4 linked regions of the Homo sapiens genome follow. The protein of the gene in region 1 interacts with the protein of each later gene in a pairwise test. Each region holds a gene or a part of one and is shown in the gene's direction. Other genes may lie near its edges.

Evidence for each region.
Region 2: the proteins of SPRED2 (region 1) and VSNL1 interact in binary tests that used the Homo sapiens proteins (3 or more experiments, as listed by UniProt).
Region 3: the proteins of SPRED2 (region 1) and TSNAX interact in binary tests that used the Homo sapiens proteins (3 or more experiments, as listed by UniProt).
Region 4: the proteins of SPRED2 (region 1) and KCNIP1 interact in binary tests that used the Homo sapiens proteins (3 or more experiments, as listed by UniProt).

The regions. Positions count from the first base shown.
Region 1 is NC_000002.12:65,338,122-65,345,886, reverse strand, and holds part of SPRED2 (sprouty-related, EVH1 domain-containing protein 2), read left to right. Parts: intron 1-990; coding exon 991-1,168; intron 1,169-7,765. UniProt on the Homo sapiens protein: Negatively regulates Ras signaling pathways and downstream activation of MAP kinases. Recruits and translocates NF1 to the cell membrane, thereby enabling NF1-dependent hydrolysis of active GTP-bound Ras to inactive GDP-bound Ras.
Region 2 is NC_000002.12:17,585,349-17,593,113, forward strand, and holds part of VSNL1 (visinin-like protein 1), read left to right. Parts: intron 1-6,721; 5' UTR 6,722-6,726; coding exon 6,727-6,888; intron 6,889-7,765.
Region 3 is NC_000001.11:231,538,344-231,546,108, forward strand, and holds part of TSNAX (translin-associated protein X), read left to right. Parts: intron 1-4,137; coding exon 4,138-4,268; intron 4,269-7,765.
Region 4 is NC_000005.10:170,506,820-170,514,584, forward strand, and holds part of KCNIP1 (A-type potassium channel modulatory protein KCNIP1), read left to right. Parts: intron 1-7,765. UniProt on the Homo sapiens protein: Regulatory subunit of Kv4/D (Shal)-type voltage-gated rapidly inactivating A-type potassium channels. Regulates channel density, inactivation kinetics and rate of recovery from inactivation in a calcium-dependent and isoform-specific manner.

The DNA.
Region 1 (7,765 bases):
GAAGAATGAAAAGAAGCTAGAATTGGTCTCTGGGGGAGAAAAAGGATTTTTGGCAAATGTGCAGAAGAACTTATTGTGAAATTGAGGTTTTAGACTGGAAGAAATAAAATCATAAACAGAAGTCTACAAATATGTAAAGGGTTATTGGAATTGAAATATTTTCCTACCTAGATACGTGATTTCATGGTGAATTTATGATTTGCAAGTAGATTATCCTATTTTATGCTAAATGAGATTCTTGGCTTTATAAAATGTTAAAACTTGGTCATTCATTTTCAACTCATTTTAAAGGGTTGAAACCATAATACCGTCTTAATAGGTTTGTAGTCTGGGCGTGGTGGCTCCCGCCTGTAATCCCAGTGCTTTGGGATGCCAACATGGGTAAATCACCTGATGTCAGGAGTTCCAGACCAGCGTGCCAACATGGTGAAACCCCATCTCTACTAAAAATACAAAAAACTAGCCAGGCATGGTGGCAGGTGCCTATAATCCCAGCTACTTGGGAGGCTGAATCAGAATCGCTTGAACCCGGGAGGCGGAGGTTGCAGTGAGCCGACATCGCGCCATTACACTCCAGCCTGGGCAACAAGAGCGAAACTCCGTCTCAAAAAAAAAAAAAAAAAAAAACAACAACTAAAAACCAAAATAGGTGTGTGTCTTTCCAACCTAAAGATACTGAATTACAGAAATCAATTCATTTATCAGTACTTACACCTAGAAACTGGAGAATATTGTGCCTGTATACATCTTTCGATCACAAGTAATTTTTAATTACTTATCTTTTTTAAAATGTACTTTTATATTGAGTTTAAGTGTTTTGTTTTTTCCCTAAAAGTTGAGATGGACCACTTTTTAAGGTTGCCGCCAAGCATAGATTTCTTTCGATAAAACAAAAAAAGTGCTGGCTGGTGGTCATCTTGCATTTTGAAACGTGTTCTGCAACTACCAGACCATTGTCATGCCCTGTGCTTCTTCTTCTTGTCGTTTTAGTGACAGCTATATTGTGCGTGTCAAGGCTGTGGTTATGACCAGAGATGACTCCAGCGGGGGATGGTTCCCACAGGAAGGAGGCGGGATCAGTCGCGTCGGGGTCTGTAAGGTCATGCACCCCGAAGGCAATGGACGAAGCGGCTTTCTCATCCATGGTGAACGACAGAAAGACAAACTGGTAATGGCAGACATACAACTCGTGGGTTAAATTAGTAACAACTGCTTTCTTTACGTTAAATCATAGTCCTCTTTCCTTAACGTATTTTTTTCTTTCTTTCTCTGACTTCAAACTCTTGCAAAAGCTTCAAAAGTTAGAACCCCGGAGCTGGTGCCAAATTGTAAAACGTGACTGTCCTTTCCAGCAAAGTCTCTTTTGACCACACGCTTTATCCGAGATGCTTAGAAGTATATTTGGCTGTTTTATTTGCATCTTTGATTAAGATGTCTATCATTGTAAAAAGGTATTCAAAACAAAAGTGTACTCTTTTATTATTATGAATCACATTGTACTGAGCTGTGAAGTCAGTGTTTTAAAAATGTAGAGTTTATTCATGGAGCATGCCATTGAGGTTTGGATGGTGGCAGGTAAAACAGAAAGGCAAGATGTCATCTGACATTAGGCTACTTATAAATAAATGTTTATCTAGCTTTTATTTCATGCCCTAATGAATAAAACATGCTTGGAAAAAGAAAGTAACAAGAAGTAGTGGTATCATACTTTGTGGGTTTTTTTGGGTTTTTTTTTTTTTTTTTTTTTTTTGAGACGGAGTCTCGCTCTGTCACCTAGGCTGGAGTGCAGTGGCATGATATTGGCTCCCTGCAACCTCCACCTCCCAGGTTCAAGCAATTCTCCTGCTGAGTAGCTGGGACTACAGGTGCGCGCCACTACACCCAGCTAGTTTTTGTATCTTTAGTAGAGACAGAGTTTCACCATATTGGCTAGGTTGGTCTCGAACTCCTGACCTCAGGTGATCCACCCACCTCGGCCTCCCAAAATGCTGGGATTACAGGCATGAGCCACCGTGCCTGGCCCATACTTCTATAAATTATTATCCATGCTTATAGATAAATACTTTGGAAAGTAATCATCACCTCCCAAGGGTGGGGGATTGACACTTCATAATATATGGTCTTATGGAGGAACTCAAATGTTCAGTTCTATGTTATGAAGGAATCTATGATAGGAAGGAAAATTGAATGTCCAAAATCTGTTTTAAATTCATGGCCCTAAACATGGAAGAACACTACTTCTATCTGTATTTGATCATGGAGTGTATACTCAGAAGCCAACAGATGATTCAGAATGTGCAGGATTGTGCAGGATCCCACAGAGAAAATGCAAAGACACCACAAGAATATGTCAGTGTTACATCTGAGACCCTTTACAGCAGCATCTGTTGGGTTTTATGTGTTAAGTGTACAAATTTAACCTTCTTTTGCAAGCACTTCTTATAGTTTAAAAAAATTTAGAAAATAGATAAGACAGAACAATTTGTAAATGTTACATGTGGGTTAACAGAAATGTTATTTTCACATTTGATTTCATTTCTGAAAATTTAAAGGGAGAAGACAGCTAATTTTAAGAAGTATTTGTTCAGGAAATACCCTATATAATAGTCAAATAATGAAAACATTCTTGTTTATAATATTTTTGCAATAAAAAGCAATGTAACTATATTACCAATAAAAAGTAAAATGACTACCATTTATCTAGCATTTACCATGTACTAAGTATAATCCAGCCCTTCGGTTAGATCTCTCATTGTATCCTTACAGCAGCCTGTATAATTGTAATTGAAGAAATTATGATTCAGAAAGATTCCTTGTTCTTAGTGGCCTGTTTTGGGGGCCTGGAACCAGTATTTGATTCTCTTGTCACTCTGACCCCAAAACTGAACAACCACCCTTAGCCCTTTGATGTAATTTTCCCACTTTGTACTTTTTTTTAAAAAGGCAGGATCTCACTTTGTTGCCCAGGCTGGCCTCCAACTCCTGGGCTTCAAATGGTCCTCCCACCTCATCCTCCAGAGTAGCTGGGACTACAGACACATGCCACTGTGCCCAGCCATATTTTTAAACAGTTGTGTATCTTATTTATTTTGCCTTAAACATTCTCTTTCAAGACTATCATGAAACAACATTGCCCTAACATTCTCATATGAAATTTTCCATGTTGCTGATATCAGTTTGATGTTTCATTATTTGACCACCTCCTTAGTGTCAAATATTAAGGTTCTTCCCCTCACCTCAGTGTTAGGAATACACCTATGTGAATTTTCCACGTTTATTATAGTTTTGGAATAATTTAGGAGGTCATATTTTTATGACTTTTGATACATGTGCAAGGAGCTGCTACCAGTATTAGAATTTCCTTTAACACATTGAGGGATATAAAATATACATACATATATAATATACGTATACAAAATATTCATACATATATAATATATATACAAAATATACATACATATAATATACGTATACAAAATATACATACATATATACATATACAAAATATACATACATATAATATACGTATACAAAATATACATACATAATATACGTATACAAAATATACATACATAATATACGTATACAAAATATACATACATAATATACGTATACAAAATATACATACATAATATACGTATACAAAATATACATACATAATATACGTATACAAAATATACATACATAATATACGTATATAAAATATACATACATAATATATGTATATAAAATATACATATAAAATCTTATTGCTTGCTAATTAATAAAATGTTTTTCTGTTTGTTAAACAGTTATAACTGTGAATTAATTATCTGTTGATGTCCTTTGTATATTTACTTATCAGGGCCTTATTTTTCTCCTTCATGTGTATGCCCTCTTGCATAATAAAGATATGAATCTCCATCTGTCATATTTGCTGCAAGTATATTTTTATAATCTGTTGCTTGCCCTTTTAGTTCTTATTTTTATATATATAGAAATTTTTTTCCACTTCTTTGGTCTTTTTGTTTTTAGGGTTATTCTGTGTTTTACCAGATTATCTTGTCTGAAGGCTTATGTTTTTAGAGCTACTTTTTCCTGGTATTTCTATGGTTTGTCATAGAATACTTCAACCTAAAGTGGCCCTTTAGCTTATCTAATCTAGTCACTGGTAAGACATTACTAGTGCATAGTAAACTTTTACCATTTGTTCCAGGTCCTTTAAGTAAATAACCTCAGTTAAATTCCTGCAACATTTTGAAGGAGGAAGATACTACTATTTCCACATTGTAGTGGGGAAACTCAATGCTCTAAGAAGTGAGCCACGTCCTTGGCATGGGGTGGGCAGTGTCACCAGCAGAGCCTGCGTTTGAGCTCATTTCTTTGCAAAATCAAAGCCTGTCCCTTCACACTAACTTGGCATAATATTAGGGCAGTCCAGTCCTCTGTCCGCCCCCGCTGAGTCGTGGACCAACTGCTGTTGTTTGTTGCTAGTGTACACAGATTGCACTATCCTAAAAGTGTGCCTCATCCCCTCCCCCATCATGTTTCTCCATTTCCCCACCCCTTTTCCTGTCCCCTTTACATTCCTTGACTCCACACTTGTGGGCTTTTATATTCACTAGTACCTAAGTCACACACCCATATGTCCTGCTGTACTTCTCTGTCTCTCCATCCCTCACCTTGCCTGTTTCACACTCCAGGAAATTCTGGATTTCTGTACTGAGTGGTACTTAACCCCTCCCCTCACACCCATACCCAGCACACTCATGCACATGCACACACACACACACACACACACACGCCCGTACCCAGTCTCCCTTCCTCTCTCTCTCTCACTGCCCTCCCCCCCACCACCCCGCCCCTTTCTCTCTCCTTAGAGATATGATAACTCTTCCTTTGGCCTCTCAAGCTTCTCTAATGCAATGCTAGTGCCCACTGGAGACCATGCGCCCACATGGGAGCTCTGCAAATGTGGTGAGTTATTGAGGAACCCCCCTCTAAAAGGTGGAATGGCAAAGAAAAGATGAAGATTATTTTTAGGATATATTGGATGGATTGTATCAGAGTTCCCAGTATTCCAACTAGGGCATGAAGTGCTCTTTCAGATAGAAACAGTGTTGTCAGTTTTTACAATGTAGTGCACATCTAGAATTCAGCACATTGTGGGAGTTTGTTTCGTTACATATTGAGGGCTGTTAACTACCATTGTTTCTGTGGGAAAAGTCTCTGTTCCAGACAACCATTCACGAGTAGTCAGGTAATTTTTTGGTAAGCTGGGGACAGTCAAGCCTGAGAAATTATATTTAAATTAAAATTTTCTGAGTTGAATCTCATTTTTAGATGGATTAGAGGAGTTTACTCCTGAAACAAATCTTATGAGAAACCTCTTTATGGAGACTAATCACAAAATCTAAGAGTTTGATCATTCCAGTCATTGCCCATGTGTAGGTCAGCGAGCATTCTCACATAACATTTGGTGGGAATTTGAGCTGGCAAAGCTCTTTGAAAAGCAATTTGGCAGGATTTTAATTTTAAATGTGCATATCTTTTTACCTAGCAGTTCACATCTAGAACACTATCCTTTAGAAAAAGACTTAAACACACAGAGATTTATGGACAGTAACAGTTCTTAAACTTTTTTGGTCTCAGGATCCCTTTACACTCCAAAATTTTATTCAGGACCTCAGAGAGCTTTTGGTTTGGTGAGTTACAGCTATTTATAACTTGCCATATTAGAAATTAAAATGGAAAAAATTTAAAACTTTTAATTAAACAGTATTGTTAATATAAATGACATTTTATGGCAAATAACTGTATAACTTTTCCAGAACAAAAGTAATTATGAGAAGAGTGGCATGGCTTTATGTTTTTGAAGATCTCATTAATATCTGGCTTACCAGAAAATAGCTGGATTCTGGTATCTGCTCCTGCTTTTAATCTGTAATATATTATTTTGGTTGAAGTATATAAAGAAAATACAGCTACTCACAGAGAAGGGGAGTTAGTAAGGGGAGAAATATTTTAATAGCCTTTTCAGACAATTGTAGATATTCTTCTTTGATACTACACTAAAACTCAACCATGTGGAATCTGAAATCTATCAATGGACCTTTCATACTCTGTTACATTACCACCCACTGGTTTATCTTTCACTTTCTTTTTTTTTTTTTTAGGATTTTTTTTTAATTTTATTTTATTTTTTATTGATCATTCTTGGGTGTTTCTCACAGAGGGGGATTTGGCAGGGTCATAGGACACTAGTGGAGGGAAGGTCAGCAGACAAACAAGTGAACAAAGGTCTCTGGTTTTCCTAGGCAGAGTGTTTGTGTCCCTGGGTACTTGAGATTAGGGAGTGGTGATGACTCTTAACGAGCATGCTGCCTTCAAGCATCTGTTTAACAAAGCACATCTTGCACCGCCCTTAATCCATTTAACCCTGAGTGGACACAGCACATGTTTCAGAGAGCACAGGGTTGGGGGTAAGGTCATAGATCAACAGGATCCCAAGGCAGAAGAATTTTTCTTGGTACAAAACAAAATGAAAAGTCGCCCATGTCTACTTCTTTCTACACAGACACGGCAACCATCCGATTTCTCAATCCTTTCCCCACCCTGCCCCCCCTTCCATTCCAGAAAACCGCCATCGTCATCATGGCCCATTCTCAATGAGCTGTTGGGCACACCTCCCAGACGGGGTGGTGGCTGGGCAGAGGGGCTCCCCACCTCCCAGTAGGGGCGGCCGGGCAGAGGCGCCCCTCAGCTCCTGGACCGGGCGGCTGGCCGGGAGGGGGCGCTGACCCCCCGCCCAACCTCCCTCCCGGACGGAGCGGCTGGCCCGGCGGGGGGCTGAGCCCCCCACCTCCCTCCCGGACGGGGCGGCTGGCCGGCCAGAGGGGCTCCTCACTTCCCAGTAGGGGCCGCCGGGCAGAGGCGCCCCTCACCTCCCGGACGGGGCGGCGGGGCAGAGGCGCTCCCCACATCTCAGACGATGGGCTGCCGGGCAGAGACGCTCCTCACTTCCTAGATGGGATGGCGGCCGGGAGGAGGCGCTCCTCACTTCCCAGGTGGGATGGCGGCCGGGCAGAGACGCTCCTCACTTTCCAGACTGGGCAGCCAGGCAGAGGGGCTCCTCACATCCCAGACGATGGGCAGCCAGGCAGAGACGCTCCTCACTTCCCAGACGGGGTGGCGGCCGGGCAGAGGCTGCAATCTCCGCACTTTGGGGGGCCAAGGCAGGCGGCTGGGAGGTGGAGGCCGTAGCGAGCCGAGATCACGCCACTGCACTCCAGCCTGGGCACCATTGAGCACTGAGTGAATGAGACTCCGTCTGCAATCCCGGCACCTCGGGAGGCCGAGGCTGGCGGATCACTCGCGGCTAGGAGCTGGAGACCAGTCCGGCCAACACAGCGAAACCCCGTCCCCACCAAAAAAACACAAAAACCAGTCAGGCGTGGCGGCGCGCGCCTGCAATCGCAGGCACTCGGCAGGCTGAGGCAGGAGAATCAGGCAGGGAGGCTGCAGCGAGCCGAGATGGCAGCAGTACAGTCCAGCTTTGGCCCGGCATGAGAGGGAGACCGTGGAAAGGAGAGGGAGAGGGAGACGGGAGAGGGAGAGGGAGACGGGAGAGGGAGAGGGAGACGGGAGAGGGAGAGGGAGACGGGAGAGGGAGACGGGAGAGGGAGAGGGAGACGGGAGAGGGAGAGGGAGACGGGAGAGGGAGAGGGAGACGGGAGACGGGAGAGGGAGACGGGAGAGGGAGAGGGACTCTTTCACTTTCAATAGA
Region 2 (7,765 bases), about 48 Mb from region 1:
AAGAGGCATAGTGTCAGATATTTGCCTTCATTATAAAAAAAAAAAAAACATACAATATGCTGGGCAATTTTAAGGCATGGTTTTCAAGGCTGTTTTTAACAGTCTCTGGAAACCAGCAATCCGGTGTCAGTTGTTTATAGGATCCAAGGGGGTGGTGCTGGGGGTTGTTTCAACATCCTTGCACAGAGAGAAACATGGGTAGTGGCTTACAAGCTTTGAGTGTTAGACACAGGGACAGCATGCTGTGGGGGTGGGGAGTGGGGGACACCCATCCAGGTGGGGGGATGGGCTTCTCATCCCAGCTCTGCCATCAGCTGCCCATGTGATCTGGGAAAATTCATCACCTTCCTGAGCCTCAAACTCTCCAACCTAAAACCAAAGGGCTTAAAGCAGAGGAGCCTACAGGCAAATCTTTTCAAGCTTTGGTCTTCCCTTGTGTGATCTTGGAATTCTTTTTTTCTTTTTTTTTTTTTTGAGGCAGAGTTTCACTCTTGTCACCCAGGCTGGAGTACAATGGTGCGATCTTGGCTCACTGCAACCTTCTCCACCTCCCTGGTTCAAGCAATTCTCCTGTCTCAGCCTCCCGAGTAGCTGGGATTACAGGTGCCCACCACCACACCTGGCTAATTTTTATATTTTCAGTAGAGACAGGGTTTCACCATGTTGGCCAGGCTGGTCTCAAACTCCTGACCTCAGGTGATCTGCCCACCTCAGCCTCCCAAAGCGCTGGGATTACAGGCATAAGCCACTGCACCCGGCCAATTTTGGAATTCTTAATGCTAGTCCCCAGTACAAGGATCTTGAAAGCACATCAGGAATGCCAGATGGGGTTAGTGAGGAATCAGGGAGACCTTGGGTTATGTCTGTGCTGGTTTGGGGTGTGCTTCTTAGATCATGTACTTCGATTTTTATTTATGCTTTCCAGCAGCATTTCCCAAGTTGACTCATGATCATATTCCCCTGAGTTGCTTTTTAAATGTACAGATTTCCCTGCAAGGGATCAACCCACTAAGCTGTATTTTTAAGGAAGAACCAAGGGTGATTCTTGTATTCAGACAAGTTTAGGAAAGACTGCTTAAGAGGTTTCACCTGGGGACCGGTGACAGGTGAAGGTGCCTGATTTGGTCAGTATTTGTCTGTTTGTCTATCCTCTGTGTTATGTAGCTCTCTACTATGAGTATTCATTTCATCATGCTTCATATTCCAAGACTTGTAAATGTCTCCTGCATCCAGGTCTGAGCCCTTTAAGATTGGTACCATGCTTTCTGTTTATATCCCACCTTACCTAGCACAGAGCTTTTCTCCTGGAAGATTCTTACAAACATCTGCCAAACTTAGTTGTGCAGAGAGTTTTCTGCCTGATTCCGTCAAGTTAATTATGCCATGGGTCATTATTAACCACAATATCAAATACAAGGAAAAGAGAGGAGTAGTAACAGTTGGCAGAGAAGTATCATGGAGAAAACAGGATTGGAATGGAGTCTTGCAGCAGGAGTAAGGTTTAGATAGATGGAGGAAAAAAGCACAAGGGGCATTCCAGGCAGAAGTCTAAGCATGAGAAGGCCAGTCTCTACAAAGGCAATTGTTTCAGGATATGAGTGAAGAGCCTAGGGCTCAAAGAAAAGATTTATTCAAGACTGACCTAAGTAATCTGTCACTGACCAGCCCATTGCAGCCTCTTTCCATACTTGCATTACATGCAGGTCTCCAACCTGAGCCCCTAAAGCCCTTTCTTCCTTTGCTCTCAGCCCTATTTCCAAGGTTGTTTTCCCACTGCTGTGTTTATCCTGCTATGTATTTGCACATGTGGTGGGACTGCTCCATTTCAGCCACTCAGTTTTTATTTAAATGAATCTTGCTAAGATTCAGCTAGGCTGATTGCTAGATTACCTGGGAGGAGCTGGATATGCAGTTCTGTGTGCCTCTTCATACTCAGCAGACCCTGGTATGTTCTGGAAGACTGGATTTAGATACAGTAGGTAAGAGACAGGCTGAGGGCAACACACACACACACACACACACACACACACACACACACACACACACATATATTTTGTTTCAATCCTCTTTAATACCCAAAGGGCTTATGGAAAAAAGATGCTCATGGGTGCTTCTTGGCTCCCTTGTAGGCCCTTTCCACATCCACGAAGTTCTCCTGGTCCTCTTCTAGGAGCATTCTTAAATCCTCTGCCTCTTCTGCTCTGGAACCTGCTATCAAGACAGGGTAGGAAATGGATGAGAGATGAGCGAAACTCAAGACAGGAAGACCAGTTGGGAGGTAGTTGCAGTATCTTTGAGATGATCCTGCAGGTGAGAGAAGATGATGGCCTCTATTAGGAAAGCAGTGGGGTGCGAGAGAACTGCATGCATTCTTTACTAAGCCCTTACTAGCTGGTTTAGCTAGGGTAAATTACTTAATCTCTCTGGCCTTCAAAGTTCTCATCAGTAAAAAGGAAACAATCATAATCTCTTTTTTACAGTTTTTAAAAATACTGTTTTTAATGCTGTAAAAAAGGGGTCAATAGTTTATATGGGTCAATGTTGTTGCACAAAAGCCTTTTGTAAATTAGTGTACAAAAGTGCCATCTTCTCTGGACATCATTTGCCATTAAGTGAAACTGTGCTTTCCTCCACAAGGGCTCTATCATTTGAAGTTCTCTTGTCCATCAAAGCCCTTCCACCAGTCCTGTTTTGTGCCTAGCACTGAACTTCTCTGTATGACAACACAAGCAGTGAGAAATTCTTTTGGTTTGGGGATGGGCTGGCTTTAATATTATAGCTTGAAATCCCAGCTTAAAAGTAATACACTCCGGTTTCTGTCCCCTCCCTTCTTCGGTAATAAACACTTAAATGCTGATGGGTTCTCAGGTCAAGAATCCACAGAGCCTGCATGTGTTGAGACAAGCCAATAGGAGGTCTGACTCATATTTTCATATTTACAAAACCTATGTGGGAAATCAGTGAATGGTAGAGTTGGAAAGGCCTTAAAGATCATCTGGTCCAACTCCTCATTTTTTAAATGGGGAAATGGAGTAACTAGGAAGGAAAGGATCTTGGCCAAGATCACAGAGTAAGTTAGAGACAGAGCCAGCCTGCTTCCCCCTCATATGGTGTAGCGGAATCTCTTTATTGGGAATGTGATAAAATGTACTGTTTGTACTCTTTCTGTTATGCTGGTCCCATAATGAAAGATACTGCTTGGCCCATATCACTGCAGCCCAGAGCAAAAGGACTATAGGTGGAGAGTATTAATCTAACTACACTTTCATTCATTTATCACACATTACTAAACACCACCTTTATGTCAGTTACTGAAGATACTGAGATAAAAGACATGGGTCCCACCTGCAAGGTATTCAATTTTAATGATGAAGACAATCTCCAGGAGGGCTGAATATTTTCCATGCAGTTAAATGAAATATTTCTCCCATCTGCCAACTGCATTTTATATTTATACTTGTGAATGCATTGACTCTCCTTATATATAGATTATGAGACATTTTCTCAGAAAAAAAATACCAAATATCTCAGACCCCTTATTTATTCATGTCCTCAAGAAATATTATTTGAGCACCTAATAGGAGTTACCAAGAGGCAAAAATAAATAAATAATAGTCCTCTCTCTCAAGAAACCATAATAACAATCCAGTAGAGAAATACATAATGATCATGGAAGCTTTTACAAGGAAAGGGAGATACCTAAGAGAATGGGTGCCTAAGTTTGCCATGGAGAGTCCACGAAGGTTTCATGGAGGAGGTGGTGTGTAAATTGAGACTATTTAAAGAAGGGGAAGAAGTCTGTTGAGCAGAAAATGGGGGGAAGTCATTCTAGGAGAAGAGAACAGCATATGCAGAGCCATGGAAGTGTGGAAGCATGCAATCCTGGAATCTATAATAGTTTATAATCACTGACACATGAGAAAAGACAGATTGGCAGAAAACGAGGATATAAGTAGGCAGGACCTGAGCCACGCTAAGGAGATGAGGTTGCATCATGGAGACTAAGGAGAAGTACAGAGGCTTTTAGAGAGTAGATCAATGAGGTTTGTATTCTGGAAATTCACTCAGGCAGCTGTGCAGAAGGAGAGTGGTTGGAGTCAGGTAGCCCAGTGGGGAGGCCAATCTTTAATCAAGGCAAGATCTGATGAGGCCTATGAGGGCAGTGGCAATGCCATTCTGAGCCAGGCCAGAACCTGACTTTCTGTGTGATTCAACCATTGCCCAACACACCTGAGTGATGGTGCAGACCCATACAAGAAGCATGAAGTTATGCACTTGAGTCTCCAAACTGTGATTCACAGTCCTGACAATATTTCCTGTGTGTGTAAGAGACCACCCTCTCCAAAGTCAACTGGAACAGTTTAAGACATCACAAGTGACCCATGGAGAAGCCAAGCTTCCTTGCCTAACAAAGAAGCTGATACGTTGTTGAACTTCTAAAGGCACTTGGGGGAGGTGGTTTTTAATACAAAGTCACTTCTGAGCTTGTGGTTTGGTAAATTTAAGTCTTTTCCAAACAAGGCAGCCAGGCTGGCAAAGTGATCCTTTTTCATCCCCTCTAGGCACTGATTCAGTTCTCTGAAGCCTCCCTGCTTTCGCTCTTCCTGTTCCTTCTCCTGAAATGTCTTTCATCCACCAGTCTATGATTGGACATTGGAGTCCTATAGATCCAGGTTCAAATTCTAGCTCCGCCATGCATTAATTGTATGCTCTTATACAAGTTACCATAAGCGTTCTGAGCCCCAGGGAGCTCCCCTAATCCTGATTGCTCGGTGATTGCTGAGCAGGAGATGAAATTTGTGAGGTGTTCCATTAAGTGCCTTCTCCATCGCCAGCACTCAATATTAAATAGCTATTTTTCTTAGGTGAGATTCTAGTTTAAGAATGAAGGTTTGTAATTCTCTACCAAAAAACCAAAGTAAAGTACTGAAAGGTTTCACAATAATACATCTTTTGATTTTCAGGATAACCATGAATTAGAGTTTTCTTACTCACATTAATTAAACCTGACACCTGAGTACCCACTTGATTTCCACACCCAGCTGTGGAATTCCACAGTAACTTATAATTAATAGACAGTTGCTTATAAGAGATTTGGAACTTGAATTCAGAGCAAAAATAAGTAGAGAAGCCCCATGACAAAGGGAAGAGTTGCTGATACTGGGCCCTTTTCTCATGCTGACGAGTTTGGAGGGTAAATGGCCATCTTAATGGTATCATCTGACTGCATTTTGTGCTGCCGAGATTGTGCTGAGTGGAAATTTCCCTGGAAGTAGCAAGAGTGGCTTAGTTTCATTACAGTGAAAGAATTGGCCAATGTTGGGGCAGGTTACTGACAATGGGTGTGGAATCTGTTTTAGGAGAAGTTAAAAAATCATGACAATAAAGTATGTGATGAGATTACCCCTTCCAGGCTATTGCAAGTGTAGACATGCCTGCAGCTTGAAAGAGAGTTTGTCTCAAGCACAGTGAAGGACTAGGTTCACTTGGTTAATTCTTCAACCCTAACTCAGTATCTTTTAACTGAATTTGAAAGATCATCTGGCACTTTCCAGATTCTGGAAATTTTCCAATTTTCAAGTTTAACTTGACTTTTTAAATCAATCTGGGGTTAATTTATGTGTTAATTCTTTTATTATTATTATTAGCAATAGTCTTATTATTATTTATTATAAAGCAACTTTAAAGGGAAAATTTTAAAATTATCTTTAATTTTCCTGCAGTTATTTTAATTTTGGAATTTTTTTTGGCCTTTGTTTACCTACTTACTTGTTAATCAGCCATCACAATGAATCTGAAAGAGCTTCATTATTATGTCTGCTTTATTAATGAATAAGTTGAAGATAATGCAGTTAATTAACGTTGCCCTAAGTAACACATGTAGTAATTGGCCAAATCAGGAAGAAAAATCAGGAATTATCTCAAGCCTGCTCTGTCTCCCTACTCCCTGCTGTGATGTTGGCCACACAACCTGGTGCTTAATGGATATAGGTAACATTATCTTATGCACTATTACTTTAACTCAAAATCAGAAATAATAGCAGTCTGGAATAATATCAACAAAAACTCCCCAACCAATCCCTAGAAGAAAACCATTAAGATTTTGTCAACTCTGAAGACAATGTTGTACGAACTTTCTAATTATGAGAGGAGAAATAGAGAATTAGTGTGACTAATAGAAATAGCTGTTTTTATTGGGGAAAAAAGCTCCAACTTGAACCAGACCAACTGAGACTCCTTAATATTGCTGATTGGATATTCCAAGCCACTTACTGATCATTTAGTTATAAAGTCTTCTCATTGTTCTTGTCAGTAATCCCACTGAGTATCCCATTAAACTAAATGTAGAGTTAAACACCTGGGAGGCAAGTGTTAATAAAGTGTAATTTGTAGAAGGAAAAGAAAAACAACTTCTATATGCTTACTATGAATAGCATAAAAAGGGATGGTTGCCTTCCATTTGGGAGTCAACACCATATGAAAGATGACACAATGAGGTAAAGAGTGAATGCTACAGCCCTTGGAACTGTCAGAAGAGTCTATTTCACTCATATATTTTTCTAGAATACCAAGTAGAAGGAGGCAGACTTGGGAAGATATGCATCAGCCACACTGGAGGGAGTTCCGACCATGGGACTGCTCAGAACTCTAGCTTGGCTCCTAACCAAGTTTGAAATGATCACAGCCACAGCGCTAATTGAATTAATTTGCTTTTCTTCAGGCAGGATGGGGAAGCAGAATAGCAAACTGGCCCCTGAAGTGATGGAGGACCTGGTGAAGAGCACAGAGTTTAATGAGCATGAACTCAAGCAGTGGTACAAAGGATTTCTCAAGGACTGTCCAAGTGGGAGGCTAAATCTCGAGGAATTTCAGCAGCTCTATGTGAAGGTAAGTTGTTTTTCAACCTTGTTTTTATTCCTTAGGCCAGAAACTATGGCCTTCATGAAATTGTACCCTCACATGGAATTATAACTCTAAGTAGCTAGTTTGTTTCAACTCTGGCTGTTTTCCATCCAGAAAGAAAAATTAACATTTAAAAATGCAAATGTATATATGTTGTTCCCAAAATAAGCAATTTCTGAACAAAAAGAGTAATTGTTAAATCAAAGCACTGAATAGAGCTCAAGGAATGACAGCATCTGGTGAAAGAACCATAAAAAGCTCAGAGAAGAGTGTTTGCTGATAATTATTGACAGTTTGCTAATTACAGCATTATTTGGCCTGTTAAAGGTATATGTACTTCTCCCAGTTAAAGAAAAAGTACACAAGAGGGCTTTTTCTCTCTCTCTCTCTTTTTTTTTTTTTTTTTTTTTTTTTTTTTTTTTTTTTTTACCAGAAAAGATACTCCTGTATCCAGATAAGAACCCAGATTCCCACAACAGAACATTTAGAAAAGGGGTGGGGGAGTGTAGCGTATCTCTGGTCAGCAATGTCTACAACATAGACAATAACTCAACACTGTACACTACTCAGAAGCTAAACTTTCCCTGAACATTACACAGAACAGTCCCATAAAAGGTACAATTTCTACTGCAGTGGTATTGTTTTGGCTTGTCTGAGTCTACAAGTTGTATTGGTTCTAGATTGGGCTGATCTAAGACATTCCACTTCGTGTATACTTATGTAATGTTACACAAGTGAAAGAAATACATTTTTAAAACTTTTTCTGATTAAAATACCAAATAGAAAAATATTGCTTTATATCATTTAATTAGCAAATGTTGATTTGAGCAATATTGAATCACCCAGATGTATATATGTGTAT
Region 3 (7,765 bases), on another chromosome or scaffold:
CATATTATTCATACAGTTTTGACTAGTAAACTGAGAAAATAGCAGACTTCAGAAAAATTAGAACTTCCCAAGATTCAGCACTATCTTATGAGCAGCTGAGGATCTCCATCTTCCATCTTTGCTTCTTTGTTTGCTTCATAATTCATTTGACCTGATTCCTTTGCCTGTTTCACGAGAGGTAGAATAGTATCTACCCTACAACTCCCCAGCTTACGTGTTTTAGTCCAGCTTCTGAAGACGGATTGTTGTTACAAATTCCAGATGTCTCCAGAAGGGTAGCTGTGATTGGTTTTATACTATATGTCACAGAAAGAATGTAGGGAAGATCACATATAATTTATTAGCTTTTCGTTATTGAAGATATTATTGCCCGGGCATGGTGGCTCACACCTGTATGGGCAACATGGCAAAACCCCATCTCTACAAAAAATACAAAAAACTAGCTGGAGATGGTGGTATGCAAGTGTAGTCCCAGCTGCTCAGGAGACTGAGGCAGGAGGATTGATTGAGCCCAGGTGGTCAAGGCTGCAGTGAGCCATGATTGTGCCACTGTACCCCAGCCTGGGCGACAGAATGAGACCCTGTCTCAAAAAAAAAAAAAAAAAAGATACTGAAGTATTCCGTTCAGTAACATGAAACTTTTAAGATAATTCTCACATTTTAATTTTTACTTCATTAAATGGAATCTAATTTGCCATACATAGATTTATTGAAATATGGCACTGTTAACATTTTCTTTTTCTTACCTGACTGTGTAAAATTAGTTTTTGCTTGTTTTCTCATATCATTCTTAGATAGCTTGTACATAATAAGGCTTGTATTATCGAAAGAAGCAATACTGTTCTTATTAATTATGGACACTTTTTTTTAGTACTTATTACAATTCTAAAACAATTGCCATCAGTATTCAGCAGTAATATAAATAACAAAAGCAATAATATAAAGAAAAACATACAGATTGAGTATCCTAAATGCTTGGGACTGGAAGTGTTTTGGATTTCGGATTTTGGAATACTTGCAGATAATGTATGGGTTGAGCATCCCTTATCTGGAAATCTGAAATCTGAAGTGCTCTTGTGAGCATTTCCTTAGAGTGTCTTGTTGCTAAGAAAGTTTTGGATTTTGGAGCATTTTGGATTTCGGATTTTCAGATTAGGGATGCTCAACCTGTAATAGGAATATGACAGGAGACCTTAATATTTTAGAAAAATCTGCGTTACTGTGTGAAGTCATCTTTTAAATATTTTTCCACCAAAAAATAAATGCTCATTATAGTAAACTTAGAAAATGGTAGTCTTTAGAAAAATTACGAATGGCAGAAAGGTAAAGCTACTTAATGAGACAAATCAGTCTGTAGTACCCAAAGATAGCCTCTATCAACTAGCAGATTTCTTATTTTGTGCACTGTTTTTTATCATAGTTGTGATCATACTGTTCATACAGTTTTGACTAGTAAACTGAGAAAATAATAGACTTCAGAAAAATAAGAAACTTAAGAAAAAAATAGAAACTTTAGAAATATTAGAAACTTCAGGAAAGTAAAGATACTTCATGAAAGAGGCTGGATGTGGAGGCTCATGCCTGTAATCCCAGCACTTTGGGAGGCCAAGGCAGGCAGATCACTTGAGGTCAGGAGTTTGAGACCAGCCTGGCCAACATGGCGAAACCCTGTCTCTACTGAAAATATAAAAATTAGCCGGGCTTGGTGGCATCCCAGCTACTCGGGAGGCTGAGGCAGGAGAATTGCTTGAACTCAGGAAGCGGAGGTTGCTTGAACTCAGAATTGTGCCACTGCAATCCAGCCTGGGTGACAGAATAGGACTCTGTCTCAAAAAAAAAAAAAAAAAAAAAAAAACTTTATGAAAGAAATGAGCCAGTCACAGTACAGCTGAAAAACTGTTGTGAGAGGACCTCATGTATTTTAACTACAAAATTATTTTAATAGACATAGATAACTCTTCTTCAGTGAGCTTCAGTAGTTTGTGTCTTTCAAGGAATTTGCCATTTCCTCTAAGTTTTGAAATTTATTGGTGCTAATTTTCATTTTGATTTCACCTTTGACCCAAGAATAATTTAAGTATGTTATTTTGTGTCCAAATATTTTGGGAGTTTTCCAGACGACTTTCTGATACTGATTTCTAATTTAATTTCATGTGGTCAGAGAACATACTTTCTATAATTTGAATCCTTTTAAATTTATGGAGCCTTAATTTTGGCCCAGGATATGGTCTATCTGGTAAATGTTGTGTGTGCACTTGAAGAGTGTGTATTCTGTTATTGTTAGGTGTAATTAAGTCAGATTGGCTGATAGTGGTGTTCGCGTCACTTATTTCCTTATGATTTTCTGTACACTCGCTCTATCAGTTATTAAGAGAGAAAGAGGGTGACCTCTCTTGACGATAATTGTAGATTTGACTTTCTCCTTGAAGTCCTATCAGTTTTTTCTTCAAGTATCTTGAAGCTCTTTTATTTGGTACATTAATATTTAGGATTGTTATGCATTTAATGAATTGACCCTTTATCATTATGATGGTATCCCTGGATATAGGCTTTGCCCAAAGTTTGATGTTAATATAGCTACTCCTGTTTCGTTTGATTGTTATTAGAACGTATATCTTTTCATCCTTTTATTTTTAATCTATTTGTGTTTATATTTAACATGGATTTCTTGTCTCTCTTGCTTTTTAAAAATCCATTCTGAAAATCTCTGCTTGTTAGTGCAGGTGTTTAGACCGTTTACATTTAATGCAGTTATTGCTATGGTTATAATTAAATCTACCATCTATTCTTCTCTCCTTCCTGCCTTATTTTGGATAATTTTTTATGATCCCATTTTATCTTATTTGTAGGCTTATTAGCTATGCCTTTTTTGTTTTGTTTTTGTAGTGATTGTTTTATGGTTCATAATATATATCTTATTGTCAACTATTCTCACTTTGTACAATACTGTGTTTACTAAAATTTGTGCATACAAGAATCTTTTCACTTTGCATGATTTTTTGGTAACAGTTACTTTGCCAGTGAAGGTCACAGTTTTGATGTGCCCAAGTTTCAGTTAACACAGTACCATGCAAAGTAAGGACTACTTATCATTTCGCGTATGGTATAAAAATCTTATACTTCCTTTTCCATTTCCCCTCTACTAGCTTGGCCTTTTGTGCTACTGTTGTGATTCATGTTATTTCTACTTTTGTTGTTTCCACAATATGTTATGATTTTTACTTTAAACAGTATGATTTAAAAATAAGAAAAATATTTATCCACATTTACCAATTTTTGTAAATGTTCATTCCTTTGTGTATAGATTCAGATTTTTATCTGGTATCATTTTCCTTTTGCCTAAAGAACTTCTTTTAATATTTTTTGTAGTGTCAATCTGCTGATGATAAATCAATTCTTTCCGGCTCTGTGAACTAAGGGGATTGTTCTGCCTGCTCACTTTGGGCAATTCTTTTTCCAGCCTTAGGTAGTTTCCTCACATGCCTGCACTGATCAGTACTCAACTGAAGACTTGAGGAGGTTGCTTCTATAAATCTCTGAAGCTCTCTGTTTATACAGCTTTCTCCTCATTGTTACTCTGCTCTGCAAATTTTAGCTGTCTCGATCCCCCAAAACTCCCAACTCCTTTTCTACTCAGGCTGACTCCCAGGCTCCACCTAAGTTTCCTGTCTCTGTACTGTCACTTGGAAGCTTTCCAGGCAATAAGATGGGGCAGTCAGAGGGTATATGTTGTTCTCCTCCCTTTCCCCAGGGATCACTGCTCCATGCTGCCTGTAGTCCAGTGTCTGTAACCATTGTTTTCTGTATTTATTTTTTCTTTTTAGTTGTTTAAGGAGGGAGGATAAATCCAGTCCACGTTACTCTGCCCTTACTGAAAGCAGACATTTATCCATATATCATATTTTTATGAACAAAATTTTTCTTATAGTAAACATACAATTTTTGTATACTTTTTTCACTTAACAGTGTGTTAATAACATTTTCATGTTCTCCATACTATGAATAGTTTTGAGTAGTTTTGAGTTAGAAGTATATGAATGCATACAATATTTAGCCCTATGTTGATAATTAGGTTATTTTAGTTTTTCACTGTTAAAGCATCTGATGTTCTAAAAGTTCCCAATATCTTGATCATAGTGCTCCTGATATGGAAGATATATTGACTGAATCAGAAATTAAATTGGATGGTGTCAGACAAAAGATATTCCAGGTAGCCCAAGAGCTATCAGGGGAAGATATGCATCAGTTCCATCGAGCCATTACTACAGGTAAGTCTAGGTTTGTTTCAGGGTAATATATATTTTAAATGGTGTGCTACATGATTAACATGTGAGTTGCATGAATTTTAAGTGACACCTGATGAAATAATAATACTGGCTTTTAAAGAACTGCAACTTTGTAGTAATATAGAAGTAATCCAAAGGCAAGTTGGCTTTATGTTTTTTTTAACAGTGTAGTGATGGTCATTGATTGATTTTAATAAAGTATTTGAGAACACAGATTTAATAGGATGAACTTTATTCTTGAGTATGTAGGATGTGTTCAGACAGGGCACATCTCAGTGGTGGCTCACGCCTGTAATCCCAGCACTTTGGAAGGCCGAGGCGGGTGGATCACCAGGTCAGGAGTTCGAGACCAGCCTGGCCAAGATGGTGAAACCCCGACTCAACTAAAAAATACAAAACTTAGCCAGGTGCGTTGGCGGGCGCCTGTAATCCCAGCTACTCCGGAGGCTGAGGCAGGAGAATCACTTGAACCCGGGAGGTGGAGGTTGCAGTGAGCCGAGATCGCACCACTGCACTCCAGCCTGGGCGTCAGCACAAGACTCCGTCTCAAAAAAAAAAAATTTTGAGGGTATACTGGATCTTGGTGGTTATCATTATTTTCAAATAAATTGAATAAATGTATAAAGTGCTTGGTTCTTTCCTCTTTCTTCTTTTTCTAATGTGGGTTCATTGATAGGACAGATACTAGATAATTCAGATACAGGTTCAGTATCCCTTATCCAAAATGCTTGGGAACAGAAGTGTTTCAGATTTTGAGTGTTGAAATATTCACAGTTTACTGCTTGAGCATCTCTAATCCAGGAACCTGAAATGCTCCAATGAGCATTTCTTTTAAGCATGACCTTTGAGCATCGTGTCAGCACTCAAAACGTTTTGGATTTTGGACCATTTCGGATTTAGGATTTTTGGATTAGGAATGCTCAATATCAGTACCCTAAGATTTGCAGGAAGACTGGGAAATGAGTTTATTTGGTATCTGCTTAATACGAATACCCAGTTTTAGCCTAAACGTTTATAATTTCAGCACTTGTTTTTTCAGAAATGTTGATATGTCTTCTAATATGGGTAAGAGAAAGTACCAGCATACATTAGTTAAAACTGAGGGTGCATTGTTGGAAACTGAAGTGTAAAACAGTTCTGTGAGGAGTCATTATAACATATTACCAAATGAAATACAGTCTGCCATCATAATTTATTAATATCAGGGGTTTATTTGATTTCTTAATAATAGCACACACAATAAAGATGACTTCATGAATTTAGTTTGTTGTAAAGTGGCACAACCTGTAAAGTGTGACAGATTTGGCTGGAGTGGGAGACAGGATCAGAAGTACTGGTGGGAAGAAGGGTGAAGTAAAAGGTAAATCAAGCTTGGCAGAAAACATGAGAATATCTTTATAATAGTAGCTGTGACCATACTACAGATAGATTCATAGCAGGAAAATATTTCAGACAGAGTAGTCCTGCTATACATAAGTTAGGTATGCGTGTGTAATCTTGAGGGCTACTGGGTGGTAGTGTTGGTGGTGGTGGGGGACCAAGTTAGGTCTCTTAGTTTCTGGAAAGTGCTTGAACTGAAGCAGCAGTACAGTCTAAATGTCTGTATTAAACAGAAATCCAATTCTACAGCTTTTCCTAAGTATCCTATTAACCTGAATGACTAAAGGCAAGAGTTTGAATAACTTCCATAATCTTTATCATTTTTTCTATCACATCATCATGTAGTATGCCTATCTTGCAAAAATTCATGACAGTTAATAAATGTAATAAAAGCTGATCACAGTAGTTCTCACTTTGGACTTCAGTCTGCTTAAAACTTGTATTTTAATAAAAATTCACATATTTTCCCCAAAATGTTGGTGCCTCATGTGTGAAAAAGTTTTTCATGTTTAGACTTCTCAATTCCTTATTAGTGCATGATTAGGCTCTACTAATTGTGACAACATCAAGTTCCCCAAATATCTGTGGGACATATGGGACATTTCAGATTTGCTGTATTTGGCCCAGTAGTTCTATTTTGTATGTCCTCATGCATCAGTGAAGTATAAAGATAAAGAGTTTAAATAAGGGCCAAGGCCATATAGATAATGATACCAAAAGCAACCTAGAAAGCTGTACATTGTCTTACAGAACAGAGAAATGGAGAGAAAAAGGTGAAAGGGAAATATTCAGTAGATTATTTCCTAATGCAGGAAGGAAGTGCTGTACTCTTGGAAAGATAGGACATTAAGAAAATGGGAATGATAGATCTTCAGATTTTCCTACTTCACTGTATCATTGAGGATTATTATAAGCACAGTGGTCTCTTTTAGGCCTTCGTTTATGATTTGTAAGTTTCCTTTGAAGATAACTTACTCATGGATTAAAATAATGAAGGATTTTCTGTATCTTTTCTGTAAAAAGTCTTTAAAATGAGATTCTTTGAATTGAAGCAATAAAGATGTTTTTTCTTAAAGTTAAGGAATAAAGCAGTCAAGTAAAGAGGTGTCTAGGACCGAAAATTTTGCTGACAGATATTTTATTTGATAAAATAAGGTTATTTATAATTGGATTAGCATTAACAATATGATGCTTATGAATAGCTTGCTGCTTGTAATTGTTAAATGCTTGTTTTGGTATTACTCCAAATAGTTGTTCTTTTGACTTGAAGATAAAACAATTCTGGCAATGAACTAAAGGAGTTCTGTGCTTTTCCTCATTAAGAATAGTGCTAATGGCACGCAGAGCATTTCCCTAAGGGATACTTGTGTGAGCTCAAACATTGAGTATCCTAATAATTGAACAACAACAAAACGTCAGGTCTGTTTTCTACACATTTCTTATCAGAGTAGATTACAGATTGTCCCAAGGGATGGTTAAACAAATGAACAAATAATTAGCTGCTTGAAATAAGTCTTTAAAAAAAAATTTGTGTCCTGTCATTTTTTTTTTCCCTCTTGTTGAAAAATTAACAGTTTGGGGGAAATGTCCTCCATTTCAAAGAAGAAATACATGTTTTTTTCTTAAGTTTAGTTTATATCACTGATAATGATAAGAATTGTCATTTTTTGAGACATTTCGGTACACAAAACTAAGTTTATATCCTAATTAATGTTTTAATTCTTTTATCCAAGAATGTGAATGATGGGTAAAGTGGATGTTTTGGGCCAGTTAAGATATGTTTTTAGCCACTATTCTTTATATTCACAATCTCATAGGTTTTTGCAATACCTCTAAATCATAGATATTTTTACCACTTCACAGGCGGGGAGATTGAGGCTCACAAGTTATGCTCAGGGTCATAAGCTAGCACGTGGTACCATTGGTTTCTTCCCACATGGATTTCATTTACCTCTTAACTTTACAACCTAACTCCTAGCAAAGGCTTTATTTTGCTTACCCCAAATACTGAGGTTTTCCTCATAAACCCAGCACACACTGTGGCCCTTTTTTCATAGCACTTCTCAACTTCTAATGTGTAATCTCTTTATATATTATAT
Region 4 (7,765 bases), on another chromosome or scaffold:
GTGAGTTGTCCAGGGGTCCAGCTGCATATGTTCCCCCAGGTATTTGCCCCCGAAGCACAGTCATCTCACTGCCTTGCATAGTGGAATGCTAATCAGCAGAAGACCCTTCTATGGGAGGCAGCTTGGAAACCTGGAGGAAGCCCTGGCTGAGGAGGCTAGTGGTCAGGGAGCCTATCCTGGCCAGGTCACTTTTCCCCACTGGGGCCTCGGTTTCTTCTTTGTAAAGGGAGAAACTTACATTAGGCATTTCCTCAGGTTCCATTTGGTTCTCAAATTCTAATATTTTTATGGTTGATGCTCTCACCAGAGCTGCTGCTATGATCTCAGAGACGTGAGGCTCAGATCTAATTAGAAGCAACCGGAAGAGAGCAGTTGGGATTTTTCAACTCAGGAATCAGTCTCCCTGCTGGGTTCAAATTCAGGCTCTGCCACTTACTAGCTGTATGACTAAGCCTTGTTTTCCTCAACTATAAAACAGAGATAGTAGTAGTTACCATCTTAAAATAGCTGTTGTGTTGTGTGGATTTCAAGGATCATGCAAGTCAAGCATTTAGCACAGTCTCTGCTACATAAGTGGTCAGCAAATTTGAGGTACTATTCAATTTATGGCTCTATTGTTTGGGGCTTCCAAATGTCCAGAGTAAGGCCATTTTCGAAGTAGGCAGTACATCTGAGAGCCTTAACAGCTCATTTCTGGAAACCTTATCCAGCCCTATCCAGATAACTAGGACCAAAAACCCCAGCACACAGATGCTCGTCCCTTGCTTCAACCCTCACTGACCTCTACTCTGTGGCTTGTCCTGAAAACATCAAAGCCTGCTCAATTAAAATCCTGAATGCCTTGATAATACAATTTAGAAACATACATAGTTTTTAAATAGGGCAAAAACTCTGCATGATTAGTGCTGCAAGAAGATATCCAGCCCAACCTGGGTGTTCAGGGAGCGCTCTCTAAAGGCAACAGAAATCTAAAGTAATTTAAGAGCCATGCCACTGAATAAAAATATTCAGGTTCATTTCCTGTCCTTCTCTCTGTTTGGGATCTTTGTGTGTCTTTAATTAAAAGTAGGAGAGCCCTGCTTTTGGGATTCAGCCTCTGCATCCCAGTCCCAGATAGAATTTCTGACTCTAGCAGTTTTGCATGTGCATGACACACCAAGGACACTGCTCCTGGCCTTGAATGGGTAAGTGAGACAGGCTAGGGCATTGAGGAGAACCAGAGGAGGACCATACAGGTGCAGCTGCTGGGCTTGTCAGCGGGGCAGGAGAATTTAGGGACAACATCACTAGACCAAGGCCATCTCAACAGAGAATTGCCTAGAAGCAAATAATCCCACACTACAGGGGTGGCTGGGTTAGAAATCCTCCATGACCGAGTGCAAGCATGCAGAACTTTCTGAAAGGGCTGAGCTTCGGATCTCCAGAATAGTCATAGCATAGGTGAGCTATGACTCAACCCCATGGCTATCAGATGCTTTTTCTAAGGCCACACGGTGAGTTAATAGGGTACTGGTTAATATAGGGCCAAACATGGGAATGTTCCCGATAGTCCCATATTTGCTCCTAGATCAATGAGCACCTCAGGGAACTTATGGAAGCAGAGTGTACCTGATGAGACTGGGTTTAGGGTTTATTGGTCAGGGCAGCATTTTCAACCTAAAGATATGGGAGAGTGACAAGAGACAGACAGGCATAGAGAAGCAGTAGCCGTGTTGTCACATAGTCCTGAGCCCAAGGGGCAGGCCTTTGGCAAGTCATTTCACCTTGTAAATGCTAGTTTCTTTATCTGCAAAAGGAGAATCCTGATGTATAGAAATGTTTGTGCTTTGGTCTTTACCCATCTTTGCATCTTTGCCTGTCCCTTTAATTCTATAATGCTCTCCCACCCCACCCCTTGCTGCCTTGTCTAATAGTTAAAATTCCACCGACATTCCAAGACCTCACTCAGCAATTTCCATATTCAGGAAGCCTTCTCCAAGCCCCAGAGAGAAGTGATTTCTCCCATCTGAATTCCCATATTCTTTTAAGGTGTACATTTTCTTATGACTCACAATCGCGCTTGGAATTAGACAATCAACGGAGGTGTTAACCCCCTTTCCCCACCACCAGAGGTCAGGGTTCTTGGGGGTAGGAGCTCGTCTAACTCATCCTTCACAACTCTCTGCTTGGTTCTGTGCACATAGTAGGTACTTAATAAAAATTTTCCTAGAGTAAACTATAAATAATGGAATGGTTGGCCACTCTCCATTATTTGCTAGAATTGCAGACCCTGCAGGAAAAGTTAGCTTCCCACCGGAATTTCAGTTACCAGCCCTCTGCCAGGAATGAATTCTGTTGTTCGGTCTGCTGGCTTTGAATTGACTTTGTCCATGAAATGTACCGAATCTGTTTACCATTTAGCAGGAAAGTGCTGAGAACAGTGATTCTACTCCCACTCCCTCATAATCACAAAGGTATGAGGAACCCACACCCAGCACCAGGCACAGTTCTGGTCCCTCAATCCCAGAAGAAGCTCAATGGAGCTCAAGATAAACAGAAAGAGAGAGATGGAAAAGAATGGAAGACAGAGGAGAAGGACTTACTGCCTAAAATCAGTGGGATTGTTTTGACTTGGTCTCTGGAAAAGGGCCAAGGCTTAGACCTCTTTGTCTGCCTGGAAGGGCCTTGCTCCATGAATGCTTTGTAAATCTGTAAGTGAATAAGTGAGCATATGCTTTAACAAATAAGTGAAAAGATGAATGATTGAATGAATGGGGGAAGCAGTAAAGGAGTGAATGAATGAAGCAACAAATGAATTATCAACTGAATGACAGAAAGAATGATCGAATAAATGACCACATGAATGAATGAATATGTCCATAAATGAATGAATGATGAAGTGCCAGAACAGCTATAATTAACAGCCTATCTTTTCACAAAGAGCATTGATAGTCATCTCCCCAAAGTTGAAAAATATAAATTCAGTCAAGAAGAGTCCTGGTAATTTTTTGGATACTGGTAGGTGTATAGTGTCTTTGGAGAAGGTGAGGAGATGTCTCTAAGTTTTCACTCTTTTGCTGAAACAAAAGCAGGGACTGACTCACAGTGATTCCCCTTGTCTTCCCTTATATTTCAGGTTCGTTCACCCTTGCCTGGGTGAGATCAGAATCTGTATATTTATCCACTCATTTATTTGTTCACTTAGCCAGTCCCACAATTGTCCTTCAGCATTGCTTCCCTGCCTAAGATCCACTCTGGCTTCCTCATCCTCCCTCTTCCTCCATCTCCTCATTCACCTGGCCAACTCCTACTTATCTTTCAAGGCCTCATTCAATGCCACCGCTCTGGGAAGCCTTTCCTGGCTTCTGTAGGCAGAGCACATCTCTGCCTTCTCTCTTTCCCCATAGCTGCTGCTGCTTCCCTTAACTACAATTCTGAACACACTATGAGGTTGTCATTATGGGTTTACACATTTATCTCTCTGACTAGCTTTCAGGCACTGAGTCTTATCCCAGGGCCTCTGTCAGGCCTGACACTGCATCCAGGCTTGATGGATGCTGGCGGCATGGAGGTAAGGATGGATGGGCCAGAGTGTGCGTTCTTGATGGCTCTGAGCGGTGTGAGAATGCGGCGGTGCAGATGAGGAATCCAGGTCTGCTCCTGGGGAGAAGCTCTGCAAAATTCTGCATAATGGCCGTGGAGCTGATGTTCCCATTCATCAGGCAGGGAAGGAACAGTTTTTAGAAAAGAGAGAGAGAGCCTAAGAGTCCTAGGGCCTTCAGAGAAACATCTCTTTAAATGCTTCCCCTTCCTCCGGGTAGTATTTTAAATAGGTCACCTTCTGGAAGTAGTGGTAGTCAGTTGGGATATTGCTAGCTTCCCGTACCCCAGCCATGGGAGTAGTACTTTGGATTAAATCTTGTTATTCAAGGCCAGACTAAAAGCCTCATTGGTGCGGTGGGGGGAAGTAGGAACCACATTCCACTCAAATCAGGAAGCTAGAAGTAGGATTGCATTATGGCTATGAGCACCGCGTTAAAATAAGAGTCTTGGGATTGAACTCCCTTTCATTGGTTCATAGCTGAGCCTTTCCAGGCCTCAGTTTCCTCTTCTATAAAATGGGGACAGTGGGCCAGGTATGGTGGCTCACATCTGTAATCCCAGCAGTTTGGAAGGTCAAGGTGGACAGATCACGAGGTCAGGAGTTCAAGACCAGCCTGGCCAATATGGTGAAACCCCATCTCTACTAAAAATACAAAAATTAGCCGGGCATGGTGGCATGCTCCTGTAATCCCAGTCACTCAGGAGGCTGAGGCAGGAGAATCGCTTGAACCGAGGAGACGGAGGTTGCAGTGAGCCAAGACTGCACCATTGCACTCCAGCCTGGATGACAGAGCGAGACTCCGTCTCAAAAAAAATAAAAATTAAAAAATGGGGACAATGACAGTGTCTCCCTATAGGGCCACGTGAGGGCCAAGAAGGAATTGAACATGGTGCTGCACACCAGGTGAGTTGGCAGTGCTGGCTTTGCTGCTGCCTTTTGTCCCATCTCAGGACAGGCCCCTTCCTTCTGCCTTGCTCCACTTGGATGATGACGGTGTTACCCTTGGTAATCTCCCCATCCCTTTGAGCTGTGGCCTCTGATTCCAGCCCTCTGAGATCCCGAGCCACCATATCCATGGTCACTGGCATTCTAAGCAGTTTCTCTGGTGATTCCTAAGGGAAGCTGTCAACTTTAGATGGTAAAAGCAATTCCCAACAGTGAGGTATGAAAATGCAGGTCACCCGCCAGGAAGGATAATAATACTAGCTCAAATGACTCTGGCCTCCACCCAGTGCCAGGCACCTTGCTCGGCTCTTTCCTGTGTTATTTTATTAACCCCAACCCTGGAGGACAAGATGCTATTACAGTTCTCATTTTGCAGTTGAGGAACCTGAGGCTCTAAAAAGGGAAGTGCCTTACTAAGGGTCATAGAGCTTGGGAATCGCAGAGCCTGGTTCTGGTTGATCCCAGACCCTGAGCTTCTAACTGCCATACTAACCTCCTCTCCTCCTGGCTTTGCCTCTGGAACCTTAGGGACCTGAGTAGAAAAACAGTCAAAACGGGTGCATGGATGTTGGGGAGAAGGCATTCAAGGATAGACTGAAGCACCTCATTAGCCACACGGAACAACTGAGCTACGTGCAGGCCCTGAGCAAAATGCTTTTAGCCCCATCCCAACCCCGCCTCCCCCTAGATCTGTTTCCATTTCATCTGACACTGTGGAAGCCTGAATATGAAATGATTGGGGGCAGAAGGCCAATTAGCAAATTCATTAATAGGATTAAACATCTCTCCTCTGCTCTAATCATTTATGTGAACTAAAATTTTCTCTCTTTGTTATAGCCATCATTGCCTGTCAGTGAAGATAGAGTGTTTAAATATCTTCCAAGTATGTTAGAATTGCAAACGTTCAGAACCAGGGACCAGGATCAGAGTTTTCACACGGTCCAGGTGGGCAAGGAGATCAGTCGGTTTACAAGTGGTTATCACTGCTAAGAAAAAAACACAAGAACTTGCTAGTACATTTGCAAGTACCTTACTGCTCATCTCCTTTCTCTCCTTAGCCACATGTTGGCCCAAATCACCTGCGTATGTTATACGGTTGTTATGAGCATACACTCCTGGTTAGGCAGACCTAGAATTCAAATCCTGGCTCTGCAACTCATTAGCTGTGTGACATTGAGCAGGTTACCTCGCTTCTGTGAACTTTCATCTCTACATAATCTAGAAAATGAAAGTATTGTTGATAATTCCCTCCCAGGTTGTTATGAGGATTAAATGCAGTCATGCATGTAAGATGCAGCGGTCAGCACTCAGAATGCGCTAAAGGTAAATTGTTACTATCTGGGTCTACTCCACTTAAAGTGTGCTCCTCCAACCAACAGCCTCAGCATCAGTTGGGAGCTTGTTAGAAATACAGAGTCCCGGCCAGGCGCGGTGGCTCACGCCTGTAATCCCAGCACTTTGGGAGGCCGAGGCTGGCGGATCATGAGGTCAGGAGATAGAGACCATCCCGGCTAACACGGTGAAACCCCGTCTCTACTAAAAATACAAAAAAATTAGCCAGGCGTGGTGGCGGGCGCGTGTAGTCCCAGCTACTCGGGAGGTTGAGGCAGGAGAATGGCGTGAACCCAGGAGGTGGAGCTTGCAGTGAGCCGAGATCGCGCCACTGCACTCCAGCCTGGGCGACAGAGCGAGACTCCATCTTGGAAAAAAAAAAAAAACCTCAACTCAGTGAGACCTACCCAGTCAGAACCTGCATTTTAACAAGATCACCAGATGGTTTATATGCCCACTGGAGTCTGAGGAATACTGGCCTAAAGTACAGATTATGGAACTATGTGTATTGTATTACACAAAATTATATATCAAGCCAGAAGAGGCTTTTGCTAAGACTTCTGATTTAAGCCTCATTTTACAAATAAGAAAATAGAATCCAGAGAAGGTGAGTGGTTTGCCCACAATCACACAGCTCAAGTGTTAGGCCTGACATCCGAACCCCAGCCCTGGTCATCTCATATAAATTGTTAAGAAGTCAGATTTCCAGATTTGCATTTCTGCAATCAAGCTTGTCTGTTTTTCTTTCTCTCTCTTTCTTTTTAACAACAAAGAAGTGCAGGATGATGTACGCCCATTAAGTTTTAGTTTACTCATTTTAAATGTTATTCCAGCCAACAGAGATCCTGAATCTTGACTCCACCAGCCATCATCTTAGCTGTACCTCCAAGTTTTCTGCTACCTGAAGAAATGATAAGGAGGCATTCTAGGTCTTTATCTAAGTTGCTTCTAAGAACATGGGCCAGAACAGGGTGCAGGACAGAGCCATGTGGACTGCAACTAGAGACTTGCCTGCATAATGGATTTCACTGATAATGTTCAGAATCCCAGAGCAGGATGGCAGCCTGGTTTACATACAGAGCCTTTGTGTGGGATTTGAAGCCAGAAAATGTGACTAAAGTAGGAGTCTAAACAGACACAGGTAGGGCCTGGGGAATGAAAGTCAAATGCCTTTTCCAGGGGGTCTAGTAGGACCTCTCTGTTGGTGGGGATCCCCCAAAAAAGTAATCTTTTTATTTTTGTAGGAGTCCTGTAATGGTTTCATTATTATTCTCACTTTGCAGAGTAGGAAACGTAGATGCAGGGAGGTTCTTGATTGGCTAGTGATTAGTAAGCAAGGACTTGAAGTGGATCTGATTGCGAGGCACTCCACCACCTGGGCTCCTGCCTGCAGCTGGAGGGCATATCCAGGACAAGCAAGCCTCTGAGCCCCAGGAAGAGGCTGAGCAGTTACAGCTAGTTTCCCAACTCCCAGGAACTGAAAATGACAGCCTCCTCTTGGCCCCATCAGCTCCTCACCCATGCCAACCCTGGACCCAGAGTGAGGGATGTTCTGGTGGAGACCATGAAGCTCCCAGCTGCCTGGGGGAAGCTGGCACATTTGCATCCGTGTGGCTGAGGCTGCACTTTCTCTCCATCTCTGGGATTCGCCCATGTATGACTCTCCCAGATGTCCAAATTGTGCACTCAGCAGGGGTGTCTTCAGGAGGCTTCCCCACCCATCGAAATCAGGGCAGCAAGGGGCTCCCCTTGTCTTCTTCCCTCTTTGCATACATCCAGCCCTGGGCTGATTAGGACTCTAAGCCCTGTAGGCCCTGACACTAAAATAATCAGGTCCTCCCACCACTGCCCCGCCCTGCCTCACCCCACCAAGGGCTACACAGGCATTTCAAAGGAGAAACAGTA